Linked DNA regions of Homo sapiens. The protein of the gene in region 1 purifies or fractionates together with the protein of each later gene. This does not show direct contact. Each region holds a gene or a part of one and is shown on either strand. Other genes may lie near its edges.

Region 1 (3,500 bases):
CTTGGGAGGCTAAGGTGGGAGGATCACCTGAGCCTGGGGAGGTTGAGGCTGTGGTAAGCAATAATGGCACCACTGCACTCCAGCTTGGGTGACAGAGTGAGACCCCATCTCAAAAAAAAAAAAAAAAAAGAGTGTAAACATTTAATATTTCAGATATTTGAGTAATAAGTTAGTAAGTTATGGTAAATGAACTTCATAAGAAATTGCAACAAATTTTTACTGAGCATTTCTAGCATCTGTTTTTAACTTTGTTATACTTTTTGATGCTTTTAGTGGATTTTCCAGAGATCTGTTTGGTTTTTTGTTAGAGTCCTCACCTTGGTTTCATCTCTGATATTTTCTTTTTCTTTTTTTTTTAATTTAAAACTCATATATTTTTAAGCCTTTGTTTTAAAACATCTCATGTTGGCCAGGTGTGGTGGCTCATGCCTGTAATCCCAACACTTTGGGAGGCCGAGATGGGTGAATTACTTGAGGTCAGGAGTTTGAGACCAGCTTGGCCAACATGGTGAAACCCCATCTCTACTAAAAATACAAAAATTAGCCAGGCGTGGTGGCAGGTGCCTGTAATCCCAGCTACTCAGGAGGCTGAGGCAGGAGAATCGCTTGAACCTGGGAGGCAGAGGTTGTAGTGAGCTGAGATCATGCCACTGCGCTCTAGCCTGGGCAGTAGAGCGAGACTCAGTCTCAAAAAAATAATCTCGTGTTAATTTTGCTGCTGCTTTTTTTTGTCTCTCCATAATTAAAACTTAACGTATTGTAGCAAATATCTACTTCTGATACTAGTTTTTTTAATTGAATTTATCAACATATGTAGAAATTAGTATTATTTAACCTCTTGACTAGCTGTTCTCTAAAAATAAGTCTAAATGCTAGGACATCCTTACTTATTATATATAGAAAATGTGACTTTCAAATGTGGGTCATCTTAAGTATGCTCTCATTGGAGACAAGACTTGTGAGTATTATGCTTCATGTGTGATGGTGTAGTTTTCCAGTATACTTTAAGATTGAAAATGTTGCTCAGGAGACAATTTTAAAGGATGGGTTATTTGCCTATATCTTAATTTTTTATAACTCTACAAATTCTCATTCACCTTGGTGAGGCATATGTAGAAACAGTTTAAATTCTTATTCAGGCATATGTAGATAGAAGTTTGTGCTATTTATTAGTTGGTGTATGTATGCATTATTATAGAGTAATAAAGAATCATTTTATTTTTTGCTTCTTTCATTATGCTTTATAGTACTTACATTTATCATTTTGATATTTAGTGCAAAGAAATGTGCTGCATGCATTGAGCATTTTTCTACAAGTTTTTTTCCCCCTGATGTGCTATTTCACATATCACAGGCCTTATTTTTTGAACAATTGAGCAAAAGAAACAGATGAAACCTCATACAAAACCCTCCAAAATATGAAAATGTGGGGTTTATTTGTGCTAATGCTCTTCTTTTGGAAACATTTGTGTTAAAGGTAAGGTCAATTTATTGATTTAAACCACATTGTATGTAAAAATGTATTATCCATGATTAAACTTTCTAAGACATTGTTCTTGATAGAAAAGATTTTCTAACTTGTGGAATAAAAAGATTTATTTTGCAAGTGTCAGAAATATTAAAATTAATTATTCCCAAGTTTTCTTAAATATTATGCAAAACTTTGATCTACAGCTTTGACATAATTTTCTAGGATCTTATGGTTGGTGATGAGGCAAGTGAATTACGATCAATGTTAGAAGTTAACTACCCTATGGAAAATGGCATAGTACGAAATTGGGATGACATGAAACACCTGTGGGACTACACATTTGGACCAGAGAAACTTAATATAGATACCAGAAATTGTAAAATCTTACTCACAGAACCTCCTATGAACCCAACCAAAAACAGAGAGAAGATTGTAGAGGTGAGTTTTTATGCAGGATATGCATATGTGTATTTCTGTGATATTATGTTAAATCAAAAATTTTCTTACTGTTGCTATGGATAAAGAGAATAAAAATAATTGTTTTCCTTCAGATCTTATTAAGTATCTACTATATGCTAGTCATTATTCTAAGTAGGAAAGTAGGATAGATCAGTAAACAAAAAATCCTACTGCCATGGAGTGTATATATTCTAACAGGGAAAAACAGACCAAAAAAATTAAGTTTTTAATTTAGTGAGTTAATTAAGTTAATTAAGTTTTTATGGAGGAGCCAGCAGAAGGAGACTGAAAAGGCTAATACAATAAGCAGTTACAGAGTTAATTAAATGGTTTGTTAGAAGGTGAGTGATCCAGTTGACCCATGAGCAATGCAGGGGTTAGGGGCACCAACCCTCCCTACTCACGTGCAAACTTAACTACCACCCAAAATACTTAACTTCTAATAGCCTACTGTTGACCAGAAGCCTTACTGATAACATAATATGTATTATATACTATATTCTTAACAATAAAGTAAGCTAGAGGAAATACTGTTAAGAAAATCATGGCCGGGCGCGGTGGCTCACGCCTGTAATCTCAGCACTTTGGGAGGCGGAGGCGGGCAGATCACAAGGTCAGGAGATCGAGACCATCCTGGCTAACACAGTGAAACTCCGTCTCTACTAAAAATACAAAAAATTAGCCGGGCGTGGTGGCGGGTGCCTGTAGTCCCAGCTACTCAGGAGGCTGAGGCAGGAGAATGACGTGAACCCTTGAGGCAGAGCTTGCAGTGAGTGGAGATCGTGCCACTGCACTCCAGCCTGGGCGACAGAGCGAGACTCCGTCTCAAAAAAAAATAAAAAATCATAAGAGAAAATACATTTACTATACCTTAAGTGGATGTAGATCATCATAAAGATCTTCATCGTCATTGTCTTCACACCGACGAAGAAGAGGAGGGGTTGGTCTTGCTGTCTCGGGTGGCAGAGACAGAAGAGGTGCAAGGGGAGGCAGGAAAGATTTATTGACAAAAATCGTGTATAAGTGGACCTGTGTGGTTCAAACTTGTTGTTATTCATGGATCAGCTGTAGATGCTAAAGGCAAAATAAATCAGGTTAACGGGGAGTGGGAGGTTGTAATTGTACATAGGTTGTGAGAAGGTGATGTTTAAACAGACAGGGTAAGTGAGTTAGCCAGGGTATATAGGAGAATGGTATTCCAGATAAAGGGAGTAGCCAGTGTAAAGGTCTTAAGTTAGGAACAAGCTTGGTATATTAAAGAATAAGCAAGGAAGCCAGTGTGGTTGAGGAGAGAGCAACAGAAGATGAGGTCGAGTAAGTAATATTGGTGCCTTGTAGGCTCTAATTAGGAATTGGGCGGCTGGAAGTGGTGGTTCAGGCCTGTAATCCCAGCACTTCTGGGAGGCCGAGGTGGGCGGATCACGAGGTCAAGAGTTCGAGACCAGCCTGACCAACATAGTGAAACGCCATCTCTACTAAAAATACAAAAATTAACTGGGCATAGTGGTGCGTGCCTGTAATCCCAGCTACTTGGGAGGCTGGGGCAGGAGAATCGCTTGAACCCAGGAGG
Region 2 (3,500 bases), on another chromosome or scaffold:
TGGTGGCTGCAGGGTATGCCATTGTGTGGCTGTCCAGTACCATTACTGGAGTTCCGTGCTGGGAGCCATTTGCAGGGTACGTCCCCTCAGCTCCTGCTGCCCGAGGCGGTGGTGCCACTGCCCTTCCCAGGACAGGAGGGGATGGACTCGCTCGCCCTCTGTGGAGCCACTCCAAAGTGGTTCCTTGTTACAGTCTACCAGAGTGGCACATTTATTACAATCGATGAACCTACATGGACACCTCATTGTCACCCAGAGTCCATAGTTGACACTGGGGCGCACTCTTGATGCTGTATGTACTATGGGTTTGGACAACTGTATCATGACATGGATCCATACTGTAGTATTCTACAGAGGAATCTCGCTGCCCTACAAATCCTCTGTGCTCCCGCTAGTCATCCCACCCCTGAGCTTTTTACTGTCTCCATAGTTTTGCCTTTTCCAGAATGTCATATGCTTGGAACCATGCAATCTGCAGCCTTTTCCGACTGGCTTCTTTGGCTTAGTAATCTGCTTTTAAGGTTCTTCCATGTCTTTTCTTGGCTTGATAGCTCATTTCTTTTTAGCGCTGAATAAGCGTAACTTTTTTAAGGGAGATGTGTGGGCTGCAGTGATGACTTTGGCTTTCTTTCCAAAAATGACGGCAGCCATACTGTGATCCCTGCCCCCAACTGCTGCACAGAGAAGAGGGTGAATGCGGCGAGGGTGGGTGGAAGGTGGGCGGTGAGCTGGGGGGTTATGGTGATAACCTAGGCAAGAGATCAAGGTTGTGGTAGGGAGCAGTGGTTCTCAAACAGGGACAATCGTGTCCTCCACAGGACATTTAGACAAATGTCTGGAGACATTTTTAGTTGTCGCAGCTGGGAGAGAGGGACTATTGGCATCTACTGGGTAGAGGCCAGGGATGCTGCTCAACATCCTGCAATGCACAGGACGGGCCTCCCAACCCAGAATGATCTGGCCCCAGATACCAACCGTGCCCAGGTGGAGAAACCCTGGCGTAAAGGGGACAGGTCTCTCCTGGGTACATTTTGAAGGTAGAGCTGACAGGCCTTGCTTACAGATTGAATGAGAGGAGTCTTTGTGTTTTCCAGTCCATGCATGCCTGTTCTTTTTTCTTTCTTTAATTAAATAACATCTGGCTGGGCGTGGTGACTCATGCCTATAATCTCAACATTTTGGGAGGCCGAGACAGGTGGATCACTTGAAGCCAGGAGCTCAAGACCAGCCTGGCCAACATGGTGACACCCTGTCTCTACTAAAAATACCAAAAAATTAGCCAGGCATGGTGGGGCATGCCTGTAATCTCGGCTACTCGGTAGGTTGAGGCATAAAAATTGCTTGAACCCGAGAGACGTATGTCGCAGTGAGCCAACTGCCACTGCACTCCAGCCTGGGCGACAGAGCGAGACTCTGTCTCAAAAATGAAATAAAATAAACTAAAATAAATAAATATGTAACCCAATATGTCCAAACTATTATAATTTCAATGTGTAATTAATATGGACTATTAATGAGACACTGTATTTTTTGTCATGCTAAGTCTTCAAAACCTAGTGTGTGCATTTTACAAATGAAGCACATCGCAACATGCTGAGTTTTCAGGGGTAGTGTGGAGTGCGCCAGAGCAACAACGTTGTGTGTGTTTTTCTTTTTTTGGTTTTCTTTTTGTGTGTGTGTGAGATGGAGTTTCGCTCTTTTTGCTCAGGCTGGAGTGTAATGGCGCAATCTCGGCTCACTGCAACCTCCACCTCCCGGGTTCAAATGATTCTCCTGCCTCAGCCTCCCTAGTAGCTGGGATTACAGACGCACGCCACCACGCCCAGCTAATTTTGTATTTTTAGTAGAGACGGGGTTTCACCATGTTGGTCAGGCTGGTCTCGAACTCCTGACCTCAAGTGATCTGCCCACCTCGGCCTCCCAAAGTGCTGGGATTACAGGCATGAGCCACCGCGCCCAGCCAACGTTGTGTTTAATGGAAAATATTTTACACTGCTTCAGTTTTTCACCTTAAGTTTAAATGAATGGAACTTAAATGAAATGAACAACTCTTTTCCTTAGTTGCACTGGCCACATATCAGGTGTTTAGTGGCCACAAGCTACTAGCAGCTTCTGTCCTTCTTGGCCAGCACAGGCCTAGAGCCTACCCAGGAGGGGGCACCTTACTGGAGGTGCACTCCAAAGGTCAGTTCTCATCCTGCTGGGAGTCCTTCCAGAGTTCTCATTGCCCTCTGGATAAAGGTCATGCATGCTGTGTAGCCTGGCTCTTTAGGCCTCAGTTTCCTCATCTGTAAAATAGAATTCTGAAAGCACACACTTCCAGGATAATTGTGAGGATTAAAAGATGTTGCGGACTGGGGACGGTGGCTCACGCCTGTAATCCCAGCACCTTGGGAGGCTGAGGCAGGTGGATTATGAGGTCTGGAGTTCAATACCAGCCTGGCCAACATGGCAAAACCCTGTCTCTACTCAAAATACAAAAATTAGCTGGGTGTAGTGGTGCATACCTGTAATCCCAGCTACTCGGGAGTCTGAGGCAGGAGAATAGCTTGAGCCTGGGAAGCAGAGGTTGCAGTGAGCCAAAATGGTGCCACTGCACTCTAGCCTGGATGATAGAGCAAGACTCTGTCTCAAAAAAAAAAAAAAGAGAGAGATGACACAGCCGGGCGCAATGGCTCATGCCTGTAATCCCAGCACTTTGGGAGGCCCAGGCAGGTGGATCACTTTAGGTCAGGAGCTTGAGACCAACCTGGCCAACATGGTGAAACCCTGTCTCTACTATATATACAAAAATTAGCCGGGTGTGGTGGCAGGTTACTATAATCCCAGCTACTTGGGGGGCTGAGGCTGAAGAATAGTTTGAACCTGCGAGCGGAGGTTACAGTGAGCCAAGATTGCTCCACTGCACACTCCAGCCTGGGCAACAGAACGAGAGTCCATCTCAAAATGAAATAAATAAGTAAATAAATAAAATAAAAAAATTAAAAAAGATGATGCTTCCATCAATGGAGGAATGGATAAAATATGGTATATCCATACAATGGAATGTTATTCAGCCATGAAAAAGAATGAAGTGCTGATACCACTTACGACATGAATGAACCTGGAAAACATCATGCTGAGTGAAAGCAGTCAGACACAAAAGGTCACGTATTTTATGGACACATTTATATTAAATGTCTGGGACAGGTAAATCCATAAAGGAAGAAAGTATATCTGTGGTTGCAGGGGCCAGAGGGAAGGGAAATTGGGAATGACTGCTCATAGGTTTCCTTTGGGGGGTGATGAAAATTTCCTAGAGTTAGTGGTGATGGTTATACAACCCTGTGAATATCTTTAAAAGGCTGAACTGTGTGGATTGTGAATTATATCTCAAAAGCATACTTCAAAAAAAGATAATGCTTGCATATGCAGGCCCATGGCAAGGGATGATAGTGGTTGGTGGTGATGATGGTGACGATGATTGACGATAATTATATTGTTAATGGTAGTGATGATGA
Region 3 (3,500 bases), on another chromosome or scaffold:
AAGAAATATGGTATCTTTCAATTTGTATGAATCCCTTTTGAAGGAAATATATTTCAGATTCCAAGTATTGACCTAAGTTATATTCAATCTAATATTACTTAAATTCAATAGTACTCTTAAATAATTGTGAAACTCAGTAGATTTACTCTTTAAATACAATTAAGTCTACAAAAATCCCCAAACTCACATTAGCAACATTATATTGATGTGAAACAATCTAATTTGCTGTTATCAGTTTACTGTAGTTTAAACTACAAGGACATTTATTATTGATAGGATGTTCCAGGGTTCATTCAGTTGCTAAACAATTTCATTCAGGACCCAGGCTGTTTGCATCCTTTCTTTTGCCATCCTTAGAATGGTGGCTTTTCCTTCTCTTGCTTGTCACCTTATGGTTGCAGGATGGCTGCTGCCACTCTACTTCTATCTTATCTTTACAAATAAAAAGAAGCGGGGGCCAAAGTCCTTTCCTAGCTAAGCTTGTCTTTTAATTTTTTCCCAGAAATGCAAGCTCCCCAACAGATTTTTCCCTTAAGTCTTATTGTCCAGAACTGTTCACATACCCATCCTAAAACCAATCACTGGCAGTAGGGAATGGGATTAACTATGACTGGTTTAGACCAATTTTGATTCATTCCCTTGGACTGGAGGAGAGACAACAAGAGATCTCCACTAGCTGCTCAAACAAAAGTATTACAATTCTGTTAGGGAAGAGAGAGTGGGAAGTGGGCAGGTAATGTCTGGAATAGAGAATAAACAGCATCTGGCCCAAATCCTGAGGTTAACAAGTGGAGAAGCCTAATCTTCTGATTTCAACTTCCCTACTGTTTTCATTGCAGTGTAAGTATAGGAAGTAATAATCCCACCCCCAACTCCCCTGCCCCTTATTGCCAGATTTCAGCCCCTTGACATTCATTTCAGAACTTCTGAGTAAAAGTCCGTTTTTCCATTGTTGCTTATTGCCAGCAAATCTATTTCTTCTTAGTATCTCCAAAATTGGGTAATTTGCTCTTTTGTTTTATTTTAAACCTAATGAGCCTTCCATGTTATGCTACTTGATGTCAGATTTCAGAAAACATCTCTAGTTGTTTGGGAAAGACTGTTTCCTTCAAACTACAAAATAGTTTTTTTTTTTTTAAGAGAAGAAACTTTTAATTAATAGTTCTATTAAGAGGGTGGCCACACTTAGATATTCTTCAAATACAATATTGATTACAAGTTACAGGTATATTCTACCAATATATTTTGAAGATTGAATAAGAGATTATATTGAAAATTCCAATCATTTCAAACCACACCGGAAGACCGAAGTTGTTTACTTATCAGTCCTTTTCCTATATGCTTCTGTGTGTGTTTTTGGCCATAGACTTTTTCCAGGTTTAAGTAGACATCCTCTCTCTGCCACTAACAAGTTGTATGACTCTGGTCAGTTTCTCTTCCTGGGCCTCGTTATCATGGAAAGAAAGAACGCTTTGGCACCTGACGTACTTGTTTAAATCCAAGCTCCCCAGCCTGGGCAACATAGGAAAAACTTGTCTGTACTAAAACAAAACAAAACAACCAGGCATGGTGGTGCGCACCTGTTAGTCCCAGCTACTTGAGAGACTGAGATGGGAGAATCACTTGAGCCTGGGAGTTTGAGGTTGCAGTGTGCTGTGATCGTGCCACTGCACTCCAGCCTGGGAGACAGAATGAGACCCTATCTCTAAAAATAGTAATTATAAAATAAAAAGTCAAATCCAAGCTCCGGTGCTACCAAAAATGGCTCTGGGAAAGTTATTTAGTATTTCTGAGTCACCTTAAAATGAGAATACTTTAATGGTACTGTTCAAAACCATGCTTGGTACGTAATAAACACCTAGTTGTTTCCTTTCATAAAGTAAGATTTGAGTTAGATGATCTCTAACAGCATGATTCATGATGTAGTTTTTAGAATCCTGAAGTCTGCTGCTTAATGGCATGCCTTGGAGTAAGGAACACTTCAGACCTACCACAACCCTCAGCCAGCCATCTGGTTGCTTTCTTTTCATTCTCTTCAAAGTACTGCTAATAAGGACATTTTAAAAACAGTGGTGCCTTGATTTAAATAGCTGGCTGCAATTAAACTTCAGTATTTAGCCTCCACTACCAGACTCCTAGACTTTGACAGAATTTGTGACAACAAGTGATTAAGACTGCTACTGTGCCCATTCATGACTCATCAATAACTCTCTTAACAGACTTAAGCAGCCTAGATGTTGATGTGTTATTCCTATTTAGATTTGAGACATTCATGTAAAAACATACAACTTACATTTCTTGGTTATTGTTCTCTAGGCAAGGAAGGTTTTTCCTCCTTCCCTTTCTCCCCTTTCTCTCCTTCCTCCTGGCTTTCCTTAGGATTTGATCATATAATTTTGTTGGTTTTGGTCATTATCTCCTAGTAGGCATATCACATTGTAGACAAGCAGAACATTCTCTATTCTCCTTAGTCCTCTGAATTGTAATTATTGGTCAACTGTGTATTCCTCAAAACTGTTGAGGTTCATAAGGGTAGGAATTGTGTCTGAATTTTGCTGGTGCTTAGAATGCTGTCTCCTTTAGTGCTAACTGAACGAGAAACCCAAATCCTGGCCTATTTAACCCCGTTCTATAAGAACAACGTTATTTCCCCATCAGTTCCCTTAAGATGGTATAACTAGGGCTATACTGCCTTTCTCCTAAAAGCGGTTATACTTCATAGAATAATAGAATCTCTATTTCAATACCAGCTTTTAGGTAAAATGTATTGTGTTTACAATATGTTACTTTGAGATTTAAAATAATTATATGGTCGAAACTCTTGTAATAGGTCTTGTAATAGGCTTGTAATAGGTCTCATGATATGTACAGATTCAGGCTTGTTACTTTTATTTTATCAAAATTTGACAATTTATGTCTTCCTCTTTGATTCCCCAAACCTGAAAGCAAGTCCACTATTATAAGACAGCAAATGTCAATTAGCAATTATTTTCACACTAGCCTTATTTTATAGTATTCAATTTTTCTGCCCTTGCCCAATTTATCACTTATTCTCTAAGAGCGAAGACTATTTTCCAAGCACCTTCACCAAGTTTAGGGACCAGAGCAAGTGGTCCACCATTAAAGGCTAGTGTTAAAAGCGCTCCAAAGTCATGTCCTAAGCAGTGGTAATTTCCTAAGTGTTTCTTGCACTTAACAATTGCCAAGTTTATTTTGTTGGCAATGCCTTCCATTTTCTTCACTTTTTTTTTTTTTTTTTTTTTTTTTGAGACGGAGTCTCGCTTTGTCGCCCAGGTCGGACTGCGGACTGCAGTGGCGCAATCTCGGCTCACTGCAAGCTCCGCTTCCCGGGTTCACGCCATTCTCCTGCCTCAGCCTCCCGAGTAGCTGGGACTACAGGCGCCTGCCACCGCGCCCGGCTAATTTTTTTTTTGTATTTTTAGTAGAGACGGGGTTTCACCTTGTTAGCCAGGATGGTCTCGATCTCCTGACCTCATGAT
Region 4 (3,500 bases), on another chromosome or scaffold:
TGCCGTTCACCAGCTTCAGCATCTCCTCCAGGTGGTCCATGCACATGATGCCTACGGGGGAAGAGGGCAGTCAGGGATTGGAAGGTCAGGCGTGGGCCAGGAGAAGGGCCAGCTTGTCATGAGCTCTTGTCCCCTCGGAGCTGATAGGGCTGAGTGGGTAAGGCTGTCTCCCTCAATCAGAACCCAGTTCCCTTTGGGAAAGCCAGGAATTTGCTAAGGATTTTAAATTTTTCCTAATTAACCAGTTTTGTTTGATTAAACAGGAATACATACATGGATACAAATTTAAAGTGCTGGACTTTTTTTTTTTTTTTTTTTTTTTGAGACAGCCCTGTCACCTAGGCTGGAGTGCAGTGGCACGAGCTCAGCTCACTGCAACCTCCGCCTCCCGGGTTCAAGTGATTCTCCTGCCTCAGCCTCCCGAGTAGCTGGGATTATGGGTGCCTGCCACCACACGTGGCCAATTTTTGTATTTTTAGTAGAGACAGGGTTTCACCATGTTGGCCAGGCTGGTCTCCAACTCCTGACCTCAAGTGATCCACCCGCCTCGGCCTCCCAGACTGCTGGGATTACAAGCATGAGCCACTGTACCTGGCCAGTGTTGGGGGCTTTTTTAAAGTATGTGCACCTATTACGTTCCTACCAATAATAAATAGACTATAAAACAAAACAAAAATTAGGCAGTACGAAAGGGCATACAATAAAAAATGTATCTCCTTGTCTAGAGGCAGCCAACTGCTGCTTCCAGGACCTTATGGATATCCTTCTGGATCATGTGAAAGCCTACACGTGCCTCCGTTTCCCAGGATTGCATAAATTGAAGCACGTTGAGGATTTGGAATAGTGCTTTAGCTGCATGACTGCATTTAATCCTCACCTCACAGGAGGTATTATCATCCTCCTCATGTCACAGATGAGGGAACTGAGGTTCAGGGAGGCGCTAAAACCTGCTCAAGGTCACGAAGCACATTAGTAGCAGAGCTAGGACTCAAACCCAGGCAATTTGGCTTCAATAGACCTGCACTATTAACTTCCTTGGCCTCTACTGGTAGATGCAGGTGGTGAGGTGCCAGTGCAGGAAGCAGGAGCTGACCCCCACCTCGTCCGCGGGACTTGGCTCCTGGCTTCACGATCCAGATGTTGCGATCCCCTTCCATGTCTATCTGGGGTACCACGGCCTGCAGCTGCTGCAGGATGTCCTCACAGCGCTGGACCTGAGTGTCGAGGTGCCTGAGTTCTGCCCCTTCGCTGTGGGGAAATGATAGAACTTGGGCAGGGCTGGACCTGGGACATGCAGGTGGAGAGGGCAGGGGGAGATATATTCCACCATCCCCCGCCGTCATCCAGGCAGCCTTGGTCACGCCCTCCCTGCAGATATCCATAGGTCCCTCCCAAGCCTCCGGCCCCACCTTCAAGCCACCCCGGAAATCCTAACCTGCCCAGACTACACAAATGGGAAAGGCTGATAAAATTCCATTAACTGCAAACCACCCCCTACTCCAACACTCCACCTGTGCCACCCCCTTCCTATTACATTAAAACTGTCTTTGACAGAATTTAATCATTCCAGTTCCTAATGATAAAGCACCACTATGTGCCAGGCATTGTGACAAGGGCTTTCCATATATTTTCACGAATGCCCTCAAGGCCCTGCCAGGGAAGTATTACTAGTACCCACCCCCTACCCCCCGACTTTTTTTTTTTTTTTTTGAGACAGGGTCTTGGTCTGTCACCCAGGCTGAAGTGCAGTGGTGAAATCACGGCTCAGTGCAGCCAGGAACTCCTAGGTCCAAGTTTCAGCCTCCCAAGTAGTTGGAATTACAGGCATACGCCACCACACCCAAGCTAATTTTTATTTTTTGCAGAGATGGGTCTTATTATGTTACCCAGGCTAGTCTTGAACTCCTGGCCTCAGGCCATCCTCCTGTTCAGCCTCCCAAAATGCTGGGATTGCAGGCATGAGCTACCACACCCAGCTCTGGTCCCATTTTAGAGAAATGTAAACTGGGCCAGGCACGGTGGCTCCTGCCTGTAATCCCAGCACTTTGGGAGGCGGAGGCAGGCGGATCACCTGAGGTCAGGAGTTCGAGAACAGCCTGGCCAACATGGCAAAACCTTGTTTCTACTAAAAATACAAAAATTAGCCAGGCATGGTGGCAGGTGCCTGTAATCCCAGCTACTTGGGAGACTGAGGCAGGACAATCACTTGAACCAGGGAGGCGGAGGTTGCAGTGAGCCGAGATCGTACCACTGCACTCCAGCCTGGGCGACAGAGCAAGATTCCGTCTCAAAAAAAAAAAAAAAAAAAAAGAAAAGAAAAGAAAAGAAAAAGTAAACTGGGACGGGCATAGTGGCTCACGCTTGTAATCCCAGCACTTTGGGAGGGCAAGGTGGGCGGATCACAAGGTTAAGAGATTGAGACCATCCTGGCCAATATGGTGAAACCCCATCTCTCCTAAAAATACAAAAATTAGCCGGGTGTGGTGGTGGGCACCTGTAATCCCAGCTACTCAGGAGGTTGAGGCAGGAGAATCACTTCAAGCCAGGAGGCGGAGGTTGTAGTGAGCCGAGATCGCGCCATTGCACTCCAGTGTGGGCAACGGAGCGAGGCTCCATCTCAAAAAACAAAAAGAGTAAACTGAAGCTTTGAGAGTTAAGGGACTTACCGAAGGCCATACACTGAAAGTTGAGTGGTTCAGCCAGGATTCAAACTCTGTCCTGTCTGATTCCTCCACCCACAGGTGCTTTTTGGGGTTCATTCCTGTCTTAATCTGTGCCTAATATTGGCTGAAACAATGTTAGCCTAATTCCTTTCAAGCACTTCTATATCACACCTCTTCTTGCTTGTTTTCTTCCCATCATCTACCCCCACCTAACACATGTGCTTATTTGGTTATTGTCTGAATCCCCTAACTACAATGTAAACTCCGTAAGAGCAGGAACATTTTCTGTAGTTGTTCTCTGCTATAATCCCCATCCCCAAGCACCACACCTGGCACTCAGCAGGTACTCCCTGGAAGTTTGCTCAATGAATGAACGGTTGGCTCAGCAAGTACTTTGGTAGGAGCTTGCCTCAGCAACTGGGCTGCACGGACAGGGTTTCATGGACAAAGAGGGACCCTGTTCTCTACAAGACAGAAAATGTCCTGAACTAAACCAAGTCACAAAATACCCCAGATGGCTGCCTCATCCAGACTCTCGCATTTCTTTCCTTCTGACTGAATAGGACGGGAGCCTCCTGTTCAGGGGAAGCTAACTCTGTGACATCTTAGCATCTTGAGTGTCTCCAGTCATGGAGAACTTTCTCTTTTTTAAGGAGGAGGCAGCAGCCACTGGGGCAGTGCCAGGAACAGGGACAGCCAGATGCAGGGGGCTAGGCAAGGTCTCCCAGGAGTACTCACACCTATGTCCTGACAAACTTTTCTGTGGTCCGTAGCATGAAGTATCTTTTCAGTAATCTGTGATGTGGCCCAGGAAAATATCACACAGGAGCGTAATTT

What was found. The genes of interacting proteins can lie anywhere in the genome.
Region 2: the proteins of ACTR2 (region 1) and HSPBP1 fractionate together in Homo sapiens (co-fractionation; 2 studies listed by BioGRID). This does not show direct contact.
Region 3: the proteins of ACTR2 (region 1) and PPME1 fractionate together in Homo sapiens (co-fractionation; one large-scale study listed by BioGRID). This does not show direct contact.
Region 4: the proteins of ACTR2 (region 1) and ARPC4-TTLL3 purify together in Homo sapiens (affinity purification with mass spectrometry; 2 studies listed by BioGRID, with this or other methods). This does not show direct contact.

The regions. Positions count from the first base shown.
Region 1 is NC_000002.12:65,244,831-65,248,330, forward strand, and holds part of ACTR2 (actin-related protein 2), read left to right. Parts: intron 1-1,693; coding exon 1,694-1,909; intron 1,910-3,500. UniProt on the Homo sapiens protein: ATP-binding component of the Arp2/3 complex, a multiprotein complex that mediates actin polymerization upon stimulation by nucleation-promoting factor (NPF).
Region 2 is NC_000019.10:55,266,611-55,270,110, reverse strand, and holds part of HSPBP1 (hsp70-binding protein 1), read left to right. Parts: intron 1-3,500. UniProt on the Homo sapiens protein: Inhibits HSPA1A chaperone activity by changing the conformation of the ATP-binding domain of HSPA1A and interfering with ATP binding. Interferes with ubiquitination mediated by STUB1 and inhibits chaperone-assisted degradation of immature CFTR.
Region 3 is NC_000011.10:74,177,789-74,181,288, forward strand, and holds part of PPME1 (protein phosphatase methylesterase 1), read left to right. Parts: intron 1-3,500. UniProt on the Homo sapiens protein: Demethylates proteins that have been reversibly carboxymethylated. Demethylates PPP2CB (in vitro) and PPP2CA. Binding to PPP2CA displaces the manganese ion and inactivates the enzyme.
Region 4 is NC_000003.12:9,823,548-9,827,047, reverse strand, and holds part of ARPC4-TTLL3 (ARPC4-TTLL3 fusion protein), read right to left. Parts: intron 1,249-3,500; coding exon 1,100-1,248; intron 52-1,099; coding exon 1-51. Other genes in the region: tubulin monoglycylase TTLL3, read right to left, coding at 1-51, 1,100-1,248.